Regions from separate parts of the Homo sapiens genome. Here region 2 is linked to region 1. The links come from fine-mapping of genetic effects on gene expression. A gene starts in region 1. The other region holds a variant in brackets. All regions are shown on one strand. Distances are from middle to middle.

Region 1 (5,380 bases):
TCCCAATTTCTGTTCACTGCTAGGCCCTGAAATTCCGTTTGAAATCATCCAATAAAAAAACAGACCTGAGGCTGGGCACGGTGGCTCTCTCCTATAATCCCAGCAGTTTGGGAGGCCAAGGCAGGTGGATCACTTGAGGTCAGGAGTTCGAGACCAGCCTGGCCAATATGGTGAAACCTCGTCTCTACTAAAAATACAAAAGTTTTAGCTGGGCATGGTAGCATACGTCTGTAATCCTAGCTACTCAGGAGGCTGAGGTGGGATGATTGCTTGAACCCAGGAGGTTGAGGCTGCAGTGAGCCAAGATCCCACCACTGCACTCCAGCCTGGGTGACAGAGCGAGACTCCGTCTCAAAAAAAAGTAAATAAAAGTTTTAAAAAGAAATAAAATATAGGACTAAATATGTAATGAGTTTGCTGAAACCCAACTTGTTCTTGTCTCTTTGAACATACTTTATCTTCTTTATTAAGCTCTAATGATAAAATGCATTTTGCAGTTAATAAAAAGCTGAAATGAGTGAACAAATCTTTTCAAGATGACAAATGCAGGGAGGGGCTGACTGGAACACAGACAAATCTGACTACTTTAGTGTCAGTTCAGGTCCTCTTATCACTTGGGACATCTCCCACCCCAGTGCTGCTCACTGAACTGCTGAGTAATTACCCTCCAAGGAGAAGCTCCCTCAATACCGCCAACCAGCTGGCTCATCAGCCATGTGTCCCCAGGGAATGGAAACTGGGGTGGGGAAGAAAAGCTGAATGTCTTAAGGGCTTTGCTTTTTGAGGAACAGTATACCAGGAAACTCCTCCCACCCCACGACATCCAGCTGCTCCCCTATAAGGTCCCACCCCCCACCTCTGGCTGTCCTCTGGGAGGAGTGACTCAAAGCTGATATTCACTAGACACTACAAAAGACTTAGCAGCTATGAGCATCTTGGAGCAGCCCCAAACAGTTCTGTAACCCAGGACCAGGACACCATAGAGGGTGGGCTGACAGATCACCCTGTGCCATTTGCAAAGAGGAACCTCGACTGAAAATATTCGGGTATCTCTGTGTAGACAAGATAAAGGACAGCCACACATGCACTATTTTTTTTTTCTTTTTCTTTTTTCTGAGACGGAGTTTCACTCTTGTTGCCCAGGCTGGAGTGCAATGGCGTGATCTTGGCTCACCGCAACCTCCGCCTACCGGGTTCAAGCAATTCTCCTCCCTCAGCCTCCCAAGTAGCTGGGATTACAGGCATGAGCCACCACCCCGGCTAATTTTGTATTTTTAGTAGAGACGGAGTTCCTCCATGTTGGTCAGGCTGGTCTCGAACTCCCGACCTCAGGTGATCCGCCAGCCTTAGCCTCCCAAAGTGCTGGGATTACAGGCGTGAGCCACCGCGCCCGGCTTTTTTTTTTTTTTTTTTTTTTTCACACTGGAGTCAAGTGGTTATTCTTTGCTTCCTCACATGTGAAATGTTCACAAACACAAAAACACATCTTTTAAAAAGAGCCATACATTGCTATGTGAAAAGAAAGTGACAATTAAAATAATGCCTCTGTTTGAAATATTGCCTGAGGGACAAAGAGTTCATAAAGTTGCTGGGAATTGATGAGAGACAGTTAGCCTGGGGAAGGCTCTGAAAACCAAGAGATTTGCTGCCAGCCCTAGGAGGAGTTAGGATGAGGGGATAGGGTGGTGGATTTGAGACCCTGCTGCCCACATCTTTGGAAGACTCGGAGGGAAACCGGTCACCTTTGGGAAGAAAGAAGGGACTGGGGAACCCACAGATCACAGCTTCTCTTCCAAAGCACAAAGCCCACACACACGAGTCTGGATTCTGCCTGGTGACCCTCCGTTGTCACCGTGCAGCGTCCTCACCGGGTTCACAGGAACTGCGAGCCAGGCTGGAGGCGAGATTGCAGTTAGATATTAACCAGGTGCCCTCAGCCCCGCTGCCTCACGGGGCCGCCTCCCTGAGAGTCAGGTCACAGCAGACGCTGACCGCCGGCTTCCTCATCGTGCCCGGGGATAAGATCTCTTGAGAGTTGCTCACGGGTCGCCTCAGTTCTTTCTCGGATCCTGAATTGCAGCGGAAAGGCTGGCGCCAACCAGGCTGAAGACCCCACAAGGGAACCCACTCAGCAGAATGCGGTTTCTTCACCTCCAGTCCCAGGAGTCACCTCTCACTTCTCCACCAACCAGCGACCCCACACTCCAGCCGTCCCTGTCCACACCTCTAAACACCCCATCCCCAAACCTCTCAGGGAGGCGGATCTGGGGTGTCCTCCCCTCTCCCCCATTAAACTGTTTCTGCTGCAGCCTTCGGCGTCTCGGTGCAGTGACTCGGGCCGTGAACCTGTGCCGGTTACAACTGCACAATCTGGGGAGACGCGGAGCTGCGGGCGCGGAGCTGCCCAGAGAGGGCGCCGGGGCCGGGGCCGCAGCGGCCGAGCAGGGACGGGACAGGACGCCCGGGGTCCCGGCTGCCGCCCCAGCCCCATCTTGCGGCCCAGGGGACCAAGGGCAGAGCTGCGCCAGGGGCACTGGGATTTGCAGACCCCGGAGTCGCCCAGGGCGAGGCCCGGGTCCCCTCACGGTCGGTTCCGGCCGGTTCCAACCTGCCCCTTCTTTGCCTCGGGACGCCGGGCCCCGCACACTCACCATTTCCCAGCTTCCAGGTGTCCGGGTGTCCTCCTTAAAAGCCAGTGTGGGTCCCAGCGCGACAGACGCTGATACAGACCTTCCAGGGCGTCTCTCTCTCAGCGCCAGAGCCAGGACTCAGAGCGCAGGGGCGTGGAGAAGACTCCGCGGGCTCTTTGAACGTCGCACCCTCCTCCCTGCAGCGTGCCTGATTGACAGTTCTCACAATCCCCGCCCCCTCATCCCTGATTGGATAGTGCTCCAGGTCCCGCCCCTTGGTGGCTGATTGACAGAAGAAGCGATCTCACAGTGCTGAGTGGAGCCGGATGAACAGGTTCCAGGCACGACCCTTGGCAAGGCGGGCTTCCTCCCAACGGAGTGACCTGACCCCTCCCGAAGTGACGTTTGCATTTTAGAATTTCCTGATTGTATTCAGTGGGTTCTTCCTGCTTTTTCCTCCTGGACAGGGACTCACAAGTGTGTGCAGGGAATTCCAGGCTCCCTGTCCAGTGGAGCCATTCCCGGACCTCGGAGCAGGAGGGGAGCCCGGGGCACACAGGCCACCCTGCAGCAGGAGGGAGGGCCTGATGTCCTCCAGGGATCAGGAATTTGGGATGAGGCTGTTGGCGACGTTGCCAAGCCTTTCCCTCACCTTATCTCTCAATCTACTCATTTTCAGCCCAGAAGATAAAAACAGGACAACAAAATAAAATAGTTGAGTATGTGGAAAAACTGGAATTATATGGCAGCAATATTTCATAAAGAATCAAAAGAGAAGAAAAGCAAAAACTTGAACAAGCTCAGAGAAGCAGCCTACTGCACTCACAGTTCACAAGCAGACCCCCTTTCAGGAGGTCAAACATATCCCCAAGCTGGGAAGCCAGGCAATGATTCCTAAAATGGAGCTCCGGGGTGGATCAGAAGCTGGTGATAAGGGAGGGACAATTAAGAATTTTACTCTGAGGTCTCAAAATACCTGTCCCCTCTGCACAGCGTGGAAATGCTCCCTCCTTATGCCATTAAATGTTAATGAATTAAACGCTCCAATCAAAAGCCAAGACATCACACTTTGAATTTGAAAACATTAGCCTTTCTCCATATGTTTATGAAGTAAAAATACTAGACTTAAAAGCGTTATGGCCGGGCGCGGTGGCTCACGCCTGTAATCCCAGCACTTTGGGAGGCTGAGGCGGGTGGATCACCTGAGGTCGGGAGTTTGAGACCAGCCTGACAAACATGATGAAACCCCGTTTCTACTAAAAACGCAAAATTAGCCGGGTGTGGTGGCACGCTCCTGTAATCCCGGCTCCTCAGGAAGCTGAGGCAGGAGTATCGCTTGAACCCGGCAGGCAGAGGTTGCAGTGAGCCGACATCACACCACTGCACTCCAGCCTGGGCAACAGAGCGAGGAAAAAAAAAAACTCCATCTCAAAAAAAAAAAAAAAAAAGCGTTATGAACTAGAAGCTGGTAGCCATGGCTAAATAGAAAGGAGCTGAACATGAGATGTCAATAGATGAAATGAAATCTTCAATCAACTTCTAGAAACTATAGCATTTTCTGCCAGGACAAATGGGCACGTTTAGAAAATGAATGAAAAAAATGACGTCTGAGTATAACCTAATGCATAAATGATACTGTTTCCTTAAAAAAAAATAATAAGCACACACACAGACACACACACACACACTCCCACAGTCTATTATGCTAGAAACTGCTCTCTGAAGGATAAACTACTATTTTATGAAATGCTCCACCCCTCACTCCTCACATTAACTGCTCCTGGAACAATGTTCTATTTATTTGTTTCCACACATATTAAAAGAGGGCACAATGTATCAAACTAACTGATTGTCAGGGGTTTATATACAGATTCTGTATATTTTTACAAATGGCAACAAGTAAGTAGTTGATTTCTGCAATGATTTAAATACATATAAAAGCTTCCAGACAAAAATAGCTGTTCGCATTACCATGATGAAGGAAAAATCAACAATGGTGAGACCCACACCCCCTCCCCCAGAGAAAGTATAAAAGAAATCCTAAGAGAAGCTAGAAAGCCCAAAATTTGTATGTGCAAGTTTAAACACAATATAGAAAGTATTGCTGTTAGTTTCCTCACAGTCAGTTCTATGGCAACACCATGCTTTTCTGAGTTAGGATGTTTATTTCTGAGTTTGTCTTTTTTTTTTTTCTGAGATGGAGTTTTGCTCCTGTTGCCCAGACTGAAGTGCAATGGTGCAATCTCGGCTCACCGCAACCTCTGCCTCCGGGTTCAAGCAATTCTCCCACCTCAGCCTCCTGAGTAGCTGGGATTGCAGGCATGCGCCACCACATCTGGCTAATTTTATATTTTTAGTAGAGACAGGGTTTCTCCATATTGGTCAGGCTGGTCTCAAACTCCTGACCTCAGGTGATCTGCCTGCCTCGGCCACCCAAAGTGCTGGGATGACAGTTGTGAGCCACTGCACCCGGCTATTTCTGAGTTTTTTAAAAGAAAAGGAAACACAACTCCTTCCCCAACCCTCTGTCACGAAGATATCCTCTAATATCTGCTGCTAAATGTACCATTTCAGTGTGAGTTAACTTTAATGCATGCAGTAAGGAGCTCAGTTCGTGTTTCTGAAGGTCAATATTCAACTTCCTTAGTAGCTTGTTGAAAAGACTTTCCCCTTTAATTTATCTTGGCCTATTTGTTGAAGATTAATTAACTATCCATGAAGAGTGTCTTAGTCCATTTGTGCTGCTATAA
Region 2 (5,380 bases), 570 kb after region 1:
GAGAAACCCCATCTCTACTAAAAATACAAAAATTTGCCGGGCATAGTGGTGCATACCTGTAATCCCAGCTACTCGGGAGGCTGAGGCAGGAGAATCGCTTGAACCCAGGAGGCGGAGGTTGCAGTGAGCCGAGATCGCGCCATGGCACTCAAGCCTGAGCAACAGAGCAAGACTCCATCTCAAAAAGAAAAAAAGAAAAAAAGAAAAAGAAGGGGGTGTAGTGTGTCGAACTAAGTGGGTGTCAGGGGTTCACTTACAGACTTTGTATGTTTTTACAAACTGCAGCAATTAAGTCGTCAATTACCGTGTTGATTTAAATACATATAAAAACTTTCAGACAAAAATAGACGTTCACATTACCATGATGAAAAAAGTCAGTAATGGTGATTCCTCTGTGAAACTAGAAAAGAAATCCAGTGGTTAAACTTGGCAGCTCCAAGGGTATCACTGCCCCCTAGGACAGTGGTCCCCAACCTTTTTGGTAGCAGGGAGCAGTTTCATGGAAGACAACTTTTCCACAGACTGCGGGGGAGGGGTGCGGTTTTGGGAGGATTCAGCTGCATTAAATCTATTGTGCACTTTATTTCTATTATTATTACATTGTAATATATGATGAAATAATTATACAACTCACCATAATGTAGAATCAGTGAGAGCCCTGAGCTTGTTTTCCTACAACTAGATGGTCTCATCTGGAGGTGACGGGAGACACTGACAGATCATCAGGCATTAGATTCTCATAAGGGGCGTGCAACCTAAATCCCTCACATGCACAGTTCACAACAGGGTTCGTGCTCCTATGAGAATCTAATGCTACTGCTGATGTGACAGGAGGCAGAGTTCCGGCAGTAACGTGAGTGGCCCAGTTCCTAACAGGCCATGGACCTATTACTGATCCGTTGCCCAGGGGTTAGGGACCCCTGCCCTAGGCAACATCTTGAAGATCTATTTGAAATACACTTCTTGACTTTTCTTTTTTCTTTTTGAGACAGAGTCTTGCTGTGCTGCCCAGGCTGGAGTGTAGTGGTGCGATCTCAGCTCATTGCACCCTCTGCCTCCTGGGTTCAAGAGATTCTCCCACCTCAGCCTCTTGAGTAGCTGGGATTACAGGCATGCGCCACCACACTGGCTAATTTTTTGTATTTTTAGAAGAGATGAGGTTTTGCCACGTTGGCCAGGCTGGTCTCAAACTCCTGGCCTCAAGCGATCTGCCCGCCTCAGCCTCCCAAAGTGCTGGGACTACAGGTATGAGGCACCGTGCCCAGCCTGAAATACATTTCAATACAAGTTATTCCCCTGAATAAAGAATCAGCTCTTATCAAAGCCTAAAGTGATCAAATGCTTGCCAAAAGCTGCCGTTGATCCGGGTTTTTTTCTGTTTTTTTTTTTTTTTTTTTTTTTTTGAGAGAAGTCTCACTCTTATCCCCCAGGTTTGAGTGCAATGGCTCGATCTTGGCTCACTGCAACCTCTGCCTCCTGGGTTCAAATGATTCTCCTGCCTCTGCCTCCCAAGTAACTGGGATTAAGTCGCCTGCCACCACACCTGGCTAATTTTTGTATATTTTAGTAGAGATGGGGTTTCACCATGTTGGCCAGGCTGGTTTTGAACTCCTGACCACAAGTGATCTGCCCGCCTCGGCCTCACAAAATGCTGGGATTACAGGCATGAGCCACTGCGCCCGTCAATCCAGTTTTGTTTCATTCAAACTCTCTGTGGCCTGTGACATAGGTGACCACTCTCCCATCTTGAAATACCTTCTCCTGGAGGATTCCAGGAAGGGACACCCAATTCATTCTCCTCCTAAGTCACTGGCCTGCCCAGTCTCTTGCAGGCTGCTCCTCCTGCTAACCTCAGAGGTGGACAGCCATTGGTCTCCTCCTGAGCACTTGTCTTCTGCTACACTTTGCCCCTTACCCTGAAACAAGGTGGCTTCTGCTGGACCCAGGGCATCAAATAGCATCCATATGATAATGTTTTCCAAATTTCATTTAGATCTTTCTCTCAGGCTCCAGATCCAATACCCTGGTCAACACTTCGCTTGTTTGACTCAAACATGCCATGAGTGATTACAAAACATAACCCTTCATTTCCCCTCCAATCATCTCCCCTGGCCTTGGTCCTCTGAGTGAGGGGAAGCACCCAGGGGCTCTGAAAATAGGATTCATCCTTGCCTCTCTTCTCTCCTTCACTCCATCAGAAATCCTA[C/G]GGGAGCTGCCCCTGCCTGTGTAACTCCTAGTCAACCTTCAGGAATTTTTTTTTGTTTTTTTTGAGACGAGTCTTGCTCTGTCGCCCAGGCTGGAGTCCAGTGGCGTGATCTCGGCTCACTGCAACCTCTGCCTCCCAGATTCAAGCAATTCTCCTGCCTCAGCCTCCCATGTAGCTGGGATTACAAGCATGTGCCACCATACCTGGCTAATTTTTGTGTTTTTTAGTAGAGGCAGAGTTTCACCATGTTGGCCAGGTTGGTCTAGTCTGGAATTCCTGACCTCAAGTGATCAGCCCACCTCAGCCTCCAAAAGTGTTGGAATTACAGGCGTAAGCCACTGCGCCTGGCCACCTTCAGGCTTTGAGAATTAGTCTCACTGGGGAAGCCTCCCTTAGTCTCTCAGACTAGTGTGAGAACCCTCTCCACCATCATATTTTAGAGCCACACACTCTTCTCTACTGCGCTGAAGACGATCACCACTGATCCTTTGTTTATGTCCAGAACTGCTAAACAGTGGGATTGATGGGGCCTTTCCCCACCCTGGAACCCGGCTCCAAAAACACAGCTTGGGTTCATAACTAGACTTCTCAATACACAACCTTCTGTCGATATCCACTAATATTACCCAAACCCACGCCAGCACAGCCTCTCTTCAAACTACAACTATGGCTTTTAAGCTGGTCTCCCAGGTCCCCTCTACCATCTATTCTCTGCCCACCAGCAGGAGTAAGCTTCTTCAAACACAAACCAAACATCACTTCTCTGCTCAAAATCCCATAAACGGCCGGGCGCGATGGCTCACGCCTATAATCCCAGCACTTTAGGAGGCCAAGGTTGGTGGATCACAAGGTCAGGAGTTTGAGACCAGCCTGGCCAATATGGTAAAACCCCGTCTCTACCAAAAATACAAAAATTAGCTGGGCATGGTGGCAGGCACCTGTAGTCCCAGCTACTCGGGAAACTAAAGCAGGAGAATCACTTGAACCCGGGAGGCAGAGGTTGCAGTGAGCCGAGATCGTGCCATTGTACTCCAGCCTGGACGACAGAGCAAGACTCTGTCTCAAAAAAAAAAAAAAACTATAAAAGTGTAACCTATCTTTAAAAGCGTAACTTATCCTATAAAAGTGTAACTTTACTGCCTATCTAACCACGTCTTTTATTACCTGAGCACTCTATGTTCCATGGACCAACACGATGACACGTGGGAGCGAGTTAGAAACGTGGACTCTCACACTCTGTCCCTAATCTGCTGAGCCAGAAGCTGAATTTGAGGATCTATAGTTCCCCGTGAAATTTCAGAAGTGCGTCTTACAAGTTTCCCCCTTAACCTGACCCAGCCATAAGGGTATTGCATATTCCTCACCACTAGGGTATTTGAATTAACAGAACATCTCAGGTGGGGGCAGCAAGGGGCTGGGGCTGGGGCTGGAACTGGGAGAGGAGACAAGTGAGACATCCTTAAGAAGATGATGTGGCGAGGGCGAGGCCGCCTTCCCAGCACTGCTATGTCCTGGCCCACTGCTCTTGAAGTGCAGGAATGGCCACTCACGGGAACTGATCAGGAGGATGCATGTGTGCTCAGCAATGTGCTGAGGCTGTAGCGCTTGCACATGGCCACCCATGTGCTCAGTCTGGGAGTTTGGTATTCAGGGAAGCGTGTGCACCAGCAGGCAGCAAAAGTATGTGGGTCCTCCTTGCCAGCCAGCCCATACTGCTCGGGGATGGGCTGAAAGTGATGGAGAAGAAGGGTTTTCTTTGCTCCAAGAGGCCAGTGGTAAAGTCACAACAAACACCAAAATGTCATGTTTCATAAGCTCTTTAGCTATACAGCAATTTTAAAACCATCTAAGAATTAAACATATTTCTGGGCACAGTGGCTCACACTTGCAATCCCAGCACTTTCAGAGGCTTAGGTTGGAGGATCGCTTGAGGCCAGGAGCTAGAGGCCAGCTTGGGCAACAAAGTGAGGCCCCCATCTCTAAAAAAAAAAAAAAAAAAAAATATATATATATATATATATATATACACACACACACATATATATACACATATATATGTATGTGTATATATATATGTATATATATATGTATGTGTGTGTATATATATATACACGTATATATATATTAGCAAGGCGTGGCAGGGTGTGCCTCTAGTTCCAGTTACTTGGGAGGCTGAGGCAAGAGGATGCCCTGAGCCCAGGTTCGAGGTTACAGTGAGCTATGATCATGCCACTGTACTCTATCCTGGTGAGACAAAATGAGACCCTATCTCTAAACAGAAAAATAAAAGAAGAGGCAATTAAACCTAAGTGTCTATTAGAAATACACTTCAATGCTGGGCACGGTGGCTCACGCCTGTAATCCCAACAGTTTGGGAGGCCGAAGCGGGTGGATCACCCGAGGTCACGAGTTTAAGACCAGCCTGGCCAACATGGTGAAATCTTGTCTCTACTAAAAATACAAAAATGAGCTGGGCATGGTGGCGGGCACCTGTAATCCCAGCTACTCAGGAGGCTGAGGCAGGAGAATCGCTTGAACCCGGGAGGCAGAGGTTTCAGTGAGCCGAGATCACGCCACTGCCCTCCAGCCTGGGCAACAGAGTGAGACTCTGTCTCAAAAAAAAAAGAAAAGAAAAAGAAAGAAATATACTTCAAGCAACTCAAGAATCCCAGAGAATACAAAATGGAAAGAAATTTTATTAACTGCTTCTATTAAGAAAACACTATTCGACTTATGAACCTTTATGTGAAGAAAACTTGCAAAAATATCTCACATCAATTTTTGTATGAAAGTAAGAAGTAGGATTCATAGTGTAGATTCATGTTAAGAATGAGGCACTGGTAAAGAGAAAGAGAATAGAGTTATACGTTTTCATTTCTTTCCTATTGCAAATTCTCTGGAGCATTATACATGTCTTAATTTTAATCAGATTTTCCTAAATTACTTACATTTATAGCATTTCTAGACAGCAGGGGTTGGGATGAAGAAACTTCAATCCAGCAAAGTTTGTATATATACATTCATGGAGGTGACATTTAAGTCATTTCATTAGGAAACTCTTTATTTTTTATTTTTTATTTTTTTGAGACGGAGTGTTGCTCTGTCACCCAGGCTAGAGTGCAGTGGCACTATCTCGGCTCACCACAATCTCCGCCTCCCGAGTTCAAGCAATTC

Which allele goes with the higher level. Alleles are on the strand shown, and positions count from the first base shown. SD is a standard deviation of normalised expression in the study named.
For the expression in monocytes after LPS of the gene that starts at base 2,781 in region 1, C is the low allele of the variant in region 2 and G is the other (moderate effect, 0.49 SD a copy in Fairfax 2014).

The links. PIP is the estimated chance that this variant, and not a neighbour inherited with it, causes the effect. A credible set is the group of variants that fine-mapping cannot tell apart.
Region 2: its variant is the best candidate, but not a certain one, in a credible set for the expression of ZNF823 in monocytes after LPS (Fairfax 2014, PIP 0.61).

The regions. Positions count from the first base shown.
Region 1 is chr19:11,736,166-11,741,545 of GRCh38, forward strand. ZNF823 (zinc finger protein 823) reads right to left here and starts at 2,781. Exons shown (of 4, transcript NM_001080493.4): 1 at 2,652-2,781. The coding sequence starts at 2,654. RefSeq lists enhancers at 2,155-2,284, 2,675-2,754 and silencers at 2,355-2,504, 2,765-2,959.
Region 2 is chr19:12,304,487-12,309,866 of GRCh38, forward strand. No RefSeq gene overlaps it. Among named protein-coding and RNA genes, the nearest start is that of ZNF44, 12 kb to the left of the region's middle. The variant C/G (reference allele first, on the strand shown) is at 2,207.